2 separate regions of the Homo sapiens genome follow, and region 1 is linked to region 2. The links come from fine-mapping of genetic effects on gene expression. A gene starts in region 2. The other region holds a variant in brackets. All regions are shown on one strand. Distances are between the middles of the regions.

Evidence for each region. PIP is the estimated chance that this variant, and not a neighbour inherited with it, causes the effect. A credible set is the group of variants that fine-mapping cannot tell apart.
Region 1: its variant is the best candidate, but not a certain one, in a credible set for the expression of KRT79 in whole blood (TOPMed, PIP 0.87).

Annotation. Positions count from the first base shown.
Region 1 is chr12:52,796,141-52,800,524 of GRCh38, reverse strand. No RefSeq gene overlaps it. Among named protein-coding and RNA genes, the nearest start is that of KRT3, 2.2 kb to the right of the region's middle. The variant G/T (reference allele first, on the strand shown) is at 2,372.
Region 2 is chr12:52,832,234-52,836,617 of GRCh38, reverse strand. KRT79 (keratin 79) reads left to right here and starts at 2,307. Exons shown (of 9, transcript NM_175834.3): 1 at 2,307-2,834. The coding sequence starts at 2,358.

The DNA of each region.
Region 1 (4,384 bases), 36 kb after region 2:
AAAAACAAAAACAACCCCCTGCCCCCACCACCAACAAACCCATGCCTTACCATTCCTCCTCCCCAGGCAGGATTGATGGAAGTCAAGAGCTAAAGAAGGGAACAGAATCTTAGCTTGCATTGAAAGAAGCACAGTGCCCCCATCACAGACAGGAAGGGGCTTCTTATTAGTTCTGGTGCACATGAAGCCACCTTAAGTATCCTATCTTAGCAAGGCACTGTAGTTTTAAGAGGTCCATTAACATATTAAAGTGGGTGCAGAGAAGATTCCCGGAAACCATCTGTACTGAGGACTGGGAGAAACAACTGGGTCTATCTAACTGGGAGGTTGGTGTCTGTGAATTCCACAGTATTTTCTAATATTGGAAGGGTTGTGATACAGAAACCAGGGGAGTGTGTGTGTTTTACTATGGAAGGCCAGGCAAGAGCAAATTCATCGCAACTCAGTTCCCATCTGCTGAAGGCCTGCCAGGGCCACAGGCTGATGGACACAAAGGCAGGGAAGACAGGTGGTAACAGTGCTCAGTGGGGAATCTCAGCTGGGGGCAGGTGTCCAGCCGTGGAAGGGGCAGGACCTTGAGACCTGAGGCTGAGAGGCCCCAGTTAGGGTTGCTGTTGTGTCAGGACTGCAAGGATTCTGAGAATGCACATGGATGCAAGTGTCTCTCGACTGAGTGAATAATGTGTCTTTTTATGTATATGTATTACCACTTTCAAATGTATATGACTATGAACTGCACTTTTATTTAAAAGTGTTGCTAAATTCATAGTAAAAAATGTATATTCTCAAAGGATACTGGAAGTATGAGTTCTGACATGTGTGAAGGTCAATGTAATTTTTTGTGTGTTAAAAGGGGCCTTCACAAGCAGAGAGGTATGGGTGCCATGCCATGACGGACAGGTGACTGGGCCTCCTGCTGCTGACCACAACTTCACTGATCCTTTAAGAGGAGTTAGGCTCCCATGAAATGGAGTGGAAGGCACGAAAGCTAGATCCTTGAAGACCTTCCTTGGGTCAGGGTGGGGTCTTGCTGGCCTGGGCAAGTTAGGAGATTTGATGAATCGCCTTCCATGGGGATCCTGAAGAGTAGGAGTGGCCAGGTGAATTCTGCCTCGAGGTAGAGGAGTGGACTGGAGAGCCTCCTGGCCGTAGCACCCTATGAGTCTCGATTTTACACATTGCAATCCAGTGACTCACTCTTTTCTCCAGGGAGTAAACACTTAGGGCGCTTAGTTAATAAACTTCAGATAATTCAAGTGTTGGGGATGACTGTAAACCAACTCTGTTTTCTCAAAGTGTTTATTAGGCCCTACAAGTTTAGAGGGATGGGCCCAACCAATAAGAATTTCAACTCACTGATTATCTCCTCCCCTTCCACCACTTCCTTCACTCACAGCTCTGATCAGAATTGACAATCTAGTCCCACGAATGTATTCCCCAATCTTTGTTTTGCTCCCTGTCCTCTCAAAGGTCAAGCCATGTCTTCTCTGCTATCCCAACCCCAAGAGTAAGTATAGATTATGCCCTTCTTCCTTTTTCTTCCACCATCTGCTGGGGAGGTCCCCGACCCAGGACTAGCTGATGACAGCAGTGGTTGTGATGTTGCTTCTCAAAGATTCTTCTCCAAGATAATTCCCTCTAAAGGAATGACAAGCATGGCTCAGAATCAGTGGGCTCTGGCAATGACTAAGATCTCCCCCCATTGGGGCACTAAGTACCCTGAATCACTATGGGTTTAGGAATTCCTAGAGACTCATTGCCCTGGACTCTAGACCCCACACCAGACCAAGCAGCAGCCTCATTTCTGTCTGGCATAAAGGCAGGTCCTCCATCCTGCTCTCTTAGATATTATAAGGAAAAATATGGTCTAATTTTTGTGATATGTTTCCTTTTTTCTTTTTCTTTTGTTGAGAAGGGTCTTGTTCTGTTGTCCAGGCTGGAGTGCCATGGTGCAATCATAGCTCAGTGCAGCCTTGACCTCCCAGGATCAAGTGATCCTCCGACCTTAGCCTCCCAAGCACCTGGGTCTACAGGCACATGACACCACACCCGGCTAATCTTTGTATTTTTTTCATAGAGATGGTGTTTTGCCATGTTTCCAAGGCTGGTCTGAAACTCCTGGGCTCAAGCAATCTGCCCACCTCAGCCTTGCAAAGTATTGGGGTTACAGGCGTGAGCCACCACATTTGGCCTTGTGATATGTTTCTTAAAACACTGGCAGATATTTCATTCATCTAGCTATGTTCCTGTGAGATCTAGAGGGTCAGAGATGATTGATCATCTTTTATGGTTAATGATGCTGAAATGCAGAGAATTTAAATAGCTTTGGTCATGCTTAGTCATGGGGAGGATCTGGTCTAGCCCTGGGTTT[G/T]GTTCATTGCCTTTGAGGGAGCAAAGAGGAGAGGAGCCTGTGTGGCCACACTCTAGGCCTGGGCTAACTTCACAGTCCATGGGCAGAACTTGCAGAAAATTAGGGATATAAGTCAGAGATGCTGGAGAGGGGATCCCAGCAATGAACGGGGCAGATTGTGTGACCTCAAATGTCCAGTCAACTTCAACTTGATTCTGTAATTGATTGATTCTTGATTGATTAGTTCTTGATTCTGTGATTCTACATTTTTTTCCCCTGAGGAGGTGACACTCATTTTGCATGTAAATTTTTCTAAATCTGAACACCAAATTTGAGAAGTCTGGATTCCTCACATTGAAATAATCTCAATTAGCTTGTGCTACCTCATGCAATGGGAGTTGAACTAGCTTTCAACCAGTTTTATCTGGTTGTAATCCAGTATAAGGGCTTAACCATTAGTCATTAATAATTAATTGATGGACTAATTCATTTTTTCAACAAACCAAACTTTATGGCACTTACTATTGGCAAAGCACTGTGCTTTGGTTCAAGGCACCCAGTATATTAACAAGACTGGAAACTCCTGGAGAGCTTATGGTTTTATCCTGGGGAGGAGCTAGGATGTTGCACAGCCTGGCAGGTAACACATGGGAGAGATAAGGATAAAATGGAAGAACCAGGCCACTGAAGAAAATTGTACTTCCTTTGCACTTGGGCCACTCCCAGCCCTACCCAGTGGGTGTTGAAGAAGTCTCTATCCTTTCCCCCAATTCTAAGGAGGCTCCTGCCAGGGCCATACAGACCACACCCTTAGAAGGGCCCAATGTGCAGCAGACAGAACAAAAAAGGCCTGTCCTGGAGAGATAAGCAGCTAACTTGGCCAGCTCCAGAGTGTGCAGGATGGCTTTCTTTTGGACAAACCAAGCCCAGTCATAAGCCTCTGAACAACCCCAGACAGGGAGAGTTTCAGGCTTTCGGAGTCAGACATATTCCATAGTGCTGCCGGCTCTGCCAGATCTGGCTTTCTGGGGTTTGTGAGGGGGCATGGGCGACTCTCAGGAGCACATCTCTCAAACAGAAAATGGTCCCACAGGGGCCCTGTGTGTCTTGTCCATGACTGGGTCTCCAGAGTTTTGCAAAGGGCCTGGCACACATTTGGCAGTCTGTAAATATTTGCTGAATTTGTTGTTGACTTGACATTTGAATTTCTTGTTCCCTAGGCCTTAAGCTAAAACCAGAGAAAGGCCAAAATGTGGGGAGCAAGAAAGGAAGCCATAGATAAACCCCAAGATGTGTAATAGTGTATAATTTCTCTGGGAAGTTTTAAAGAGAAACAAACATTAGGCATGTTGGATTTTGCCAGTGTCTGCTCAACATACATAGGTGTTAACTTGACTTTTTCTCCAAAGATAGTCATAAACCAAAAGGTCACTACCTCCTGAACTAAAGCTTGGGGTACAGGGAGAACCCAGGAGGCAGATTTGTGATAGTTCTGGGCTTTTTTCCAAGAAGGGAGAAGGAGAGGTCAGCGCTTCATCCCAAAGGCCAGCGTAGAGCTGGGCACATACTGTGCACTCAGTCATTGTGGAGAGACCTGCATCACTCCTTCCATTAAGATACTTTCCCAGAGCTGTGAGTGGGCTCCACTGTCTCCACTACTCAGAGAAGCAGAACCTCCCCACACCTCCTCCACTCTATCCTCTCCAGAGCTGGGCACCGCTCTGCAGGGCCCAGGTGCAGCTAATAGGCAGAGGGATGGCTGCTGAGCACCTGATGCAGGTGAGCGTGCCTCCTGGGTCCTGTCAGACAGAGCTAGGAGGAGGCCATGCCCAAACATGGGGCAACACCAGGCACCACCCCCTCACCAGGTAAGCCTGCCACCTTAGCACTTTTACCATTTCAGCTTATTTTCAAGGTGTGTTTGGTAGCCTGGAACAAACTTATTGCCTTGGAGGCAAACCCAGCCCATGAATATTTGGGATTAATTATCTCTCCTTCGTTTGAGCCCAACAACCTCCTCAAATGTATATAAAG
Region 2 (4,384 bases):
GTGACAGTCTCCAGAGATGGAGCCCCTCAGTAATCAGTATAGCAGTGTGCAGCAGCTCTTCCTCTCTGTGGAGGGCAGGAGGGGAGGAAACTGCTCCTCCCTGGGCTGCAGAAAGAAGGTCTGAGCGTGCATGTCCTGTCTGAAGGTAGAGTGGAGAGTAGGGGCTGGTGGAGGCAAAGTGCCCTCCCAGGCTTCTGTCTGGGCCTGGGCTGTGAACCTGGGTGGGAGGGAGGCTGTCTCCAAGCAGCAAGCCGGGAGCTCCATGAGAGTGTGCCCTGGTCCCTGTGTGCCTGTCACCAGCTCCCAGCACAAAGCGTGGCCCAGAGAGCGTGCTTGGTAAATGTGTGCAAGGGACTGGCGTGAGTGTCGTGTCTGGGGTGAGGTGAGACTTGTGTTTATCGACTGCCTCTCACTCCCACCAGCCTGGCTGCCCTGTGACTCAGAGGGCTGACAACACTTCCTTGCCCAGGGGGCCCACAGCCACATCCTGGAGGCTAGGGCCCACTCATGACTGTTTCCTCCTCCCACGCCACCCAGGGAGAGATAAGGGAGGCTGAGAAAGTGATCTCAGCCTGGGGAAAGGAGACGAAGGTCAGTGGGAAGGGGCGGCTTCATCCAGGGATCACTTTTCGAAAGGTCTTCCACGGAGGGCCCTGCTTATAGGCAGAGAAAATGGGGCTCAGAGAAGTTGCGAGTTGCCCCAGGACACACAGCTCAGTGTGGGAGACGTCTCGGCTTGGCTCCCTGAAATGCCCAGTGTCCTAACTCCAAAATCTCCTCTTGGCTATTAAGGGACTAGTTCTGCAAGTGCTCTCACTCCCATTCCTTGTGGGAGCTGGGTTCAACCTCTTCAAGCAACGGGGAGCCACTTACAGCCTCCCAGGGGCCCTAGGAGAAGATCCCACAGCTCCCTCTGGTCCTGGAGCAGGCTGTCTCTTCACTTGCTGGGCTGTGGGGAACATGGGAGGGAGGCCAAGCCTTCTCCGTGGCAGTCCCATGTCCTCTCTGTTGGGATCCTGGGGACACAGCCTGGCTGGTTGTCCTGCTCATCTGATGGGGGTGGGGAGCACAGCGATGCTGTCCTCGCTCCTTTTTTTCAGGCAAGTCTCTGTTCACTTTGAGCCCATCTTCTTGCTGAGAGAAGGGGGTGGGGAGGGCCAGTGTCTAAAGTCACCTCCTCAGTCACCCCTCGGCCCTGACAGTTGACGTCTCTGTCTTTGCTTGGGGCTGTGTTTGGTCCCAGCAGACTGAGGTGAATAGGAAGTGGGCGGCGGGGACCATATGAGGTGATTTAAGGAGCTCCCCTGGCCCCTCTGAATCAGAAACATGGGCTCCTGCATGTGGGGCAGGGGAAGATGGGAGTGACGGGGCTGCTGCGTGGGCCTCCTGGGGCTTTTTTGGAACACCTGCTTTTTGGAGCTGTGCCTGTCTCCACCCAGGGTGGTCTGTGTCCTTGACCCACCTCCAGCTCCCTCCAAAGTGGCTGAACCTTTCTGTGGGGACTCTGCTGTGGGGTAGAGGCTCAGGGATCTCAGGTATTGGTTAAATCCCCTGCCCTCTCTTCAGCCTCCATAAGAATGTCCTTTGCTCCCAGGCTTCTGGGCCCTGCCTGAGGACCCCAGGCCTTTTCTACCTCCTGATCAAGGGCCTGGGCCCCACGATTGGGCAGGGATCCTCTTTCTGTCCTTGAATTCACTTTGCCAGCATAGGCTCACTTCCCAGAAGGCTCTGCCACTGTACGGCAGAGGCACAGGCTATCCCCACTCTCGCCCTGTCACCTGTGTCACACACCCTGGACCTGGGAGGAGTGGTGGGCCGTTGGCTGGGGGTGGGATGGGAGCAGGCCTGGATGCTCTCTCTGGCAGCCCATTGCCCAATGCTCCTTCTCCTACCACCTGTACAGCCCCAGGCCCTGCAGCCTTGGCTTACAACAGGGGCCTGGGACAAACCCCGTAGAACAGAGCCCTATTGACAGTGGCCTCTGGGGCTGGGTGGGAGGACAGCAAGCCAGCCACTGGGTGGTGGGGGTGGCCATGGGAGCCCGTATCATCCTGTGCCAACCGAGGAGAGCCTGGGGGCAGGGGGAGAAGGTGGCATCCTGCCCCAGACAGTCTCGGCTCAGCCCCAGCTCTGGAGCACAGGTGATAACCGGGAGGGCCCCTCCCTCCTGCTTGGGGAGAGGGCACTCCCCGTGGCCCTAAGGACCCCTCCCTCTCCCCTTGGGGCGATGGGGCAGGAGTGTCTGTGGAGCTGGGGAGCCGGCCCAGTTGGGAAAAGATAAAAAGCCCACAGTGGCCCAGCAGCTCACGGCACTCCCTTCCTGCCCTCTCATCCTGCCCTCCGGCCCCTCTGCAGCTATGAGGTCCTCCGTCTCTCGGCAAACATACTCCACAAAAGGGGGCTTCAGCTCCAACTCTGCCAGCGGAGGGAGTGGGTCCCAGGCCCGCACCAGCTTCAGCTCAGTGACGGTGTCTCGGAGCAGTGGCAGTGGTGGCGGGGCCCACTGTGGCCCCGGCACAGGTGGCTTTGGCAGCCGAAGCCTCTATAACTTGGGGGGCCACAAGAGTATCTCTGTCAGTGTGGCCGGAGGGGCCTTGTTGGGGCGGGCTCTGGGGGGCTTTGGCTTTGGCAGCAGGGCATTTATGGGACAGGGGGCTGGCAGGCAGACGTTTGGGCCTGCTTGTCCTCCTGGGGGGATCCAGGAGGTCACTGTCAACCAGAGCCTGCTGACCCCCCTCCATGTGGAGATTGACCCCGAGATCCAGCGAGTGCGCACTCAGGAGCGGGAGCAGATCAAGACCCTCAACAACAAGTTCGCCTCCTTCATCGACAAGGTGGGCCAAGCAGGAAGGAGGAAGGGAGCTCTTGGGGAAGAAGCGGGACCTCTAATAGAGGGTGGGCTGGGCCAGGGCTGCTGTAGCCCACTTGTACTAGGGTGGTGGTTGATAGAGCTCTGGAGCTCTCCCGGTCTGAGCCTGGGATGCCGAGACGTGGGTGGCTGGAGGCGGCCTTCAGGTCTTCACCGTGCCTGTGCGGGGGGAGTCTCCAGTCTACTCATGAGTCCGGTTTGCCAAGTCCACCTTGCCCGTGTTGAAGCCTGTCCTACCACCATGATTAATACGATTGATTGCACAGTAGCCTTACCTCATCATCAAAAAATGGATTGTCCTCATAGCTCCTCTTAGTGGGGTGGCCTGCATTGCCTTTTGTCATTTTACAGCTGGGGAAACAATGCTCAGGAGTTGAAAGAGTTGTTCAAGGCTAAGAGCATGGAGCCCTGTTTGTTCCATTCTTTCAGGCTTGGAGGAGGCTTAAGGGCAAGATGTGATCAAAACACAGTTGTGTGTGGGTGGGGTCCTAGGGGTAGGCTCCCTTCCGCTTCTCCTTTTTTTACACTCTGAGTGAAGAAGCTCAATTTGGGGTGGACAATGAGGAGGGTGGTCACCAGGTCACCAAGCTCTGGGAATGTGGAATTTGACCTGTTGCCCATAGGCATGCCCTGAACCTTGCCCTTGCCTCCAGATGGATGGGAGCAACACTTGTGCTGGGATTTCCTGGTCTGTTTCGCTGGCATTGTCCACCTCGATCCTGAGCCAAGGCAGCGGGTCATGATGGGGAAGGTCTGGCAGACAAATGTACCTTGGTTCAGTGATTTGTGTGTTTCCGAAGAACATGCACATCCCTTTTCTCCTGAGGTACCCACAGTGCTTCTATGAAGACTCAGAAATGGTGATATTGTGCCCATTTTTGAGATGAGAAAATTGAGGTCTAGAGAGCTCAAGTGATTTGCCCAGGATGATACAAGGAGTTGGAGGCAGAGGCGGGACTGGGACCCAGGCCCCTGGACTCTGTGGTTCTTGGCACTAAGAGTTGTTACTGCTCACAATAGGCACACCTGCTGCATGATGCTCCCAGGGCATGTGACTGAGGCCCAGGTAGTGTGGAGATGGGACCTGGAGATATTGGATGACAGAATATGAAGCAAGCCGTCTTGCCTGCCTCCTCACCCTCTCCCCTAGTGACTTTTGGTTTTCCTGTGGGACTGTCCCAGAGGCCAAACAAGCCAAAACCTTTCTCAGGATTGCAGAATCACAGCTTGGGAGCTGGAGGTCTGAGAGATTGTCTTGGAACCCCAGCTGGGCCAAGAACTCTCGGGGGTCCTGTTAAACCCACACCGTAAGCCTCCTTCTGAGTCTATAGAGGAAGGGCTCAGACATTGGTACTTTAAAAAAAGTTTTTTTTGGGAAAAAATGTTGAATTTACAGAAAAGTTGCAAGAATAGTACAACATACTCCTGTATACTCTTTCACCCAGTTCACCAATTTTCTTAATTTATTATTATTATTTTTTGAGACAGGGTCTTGCTCTGTTTCCCAGACTGGAG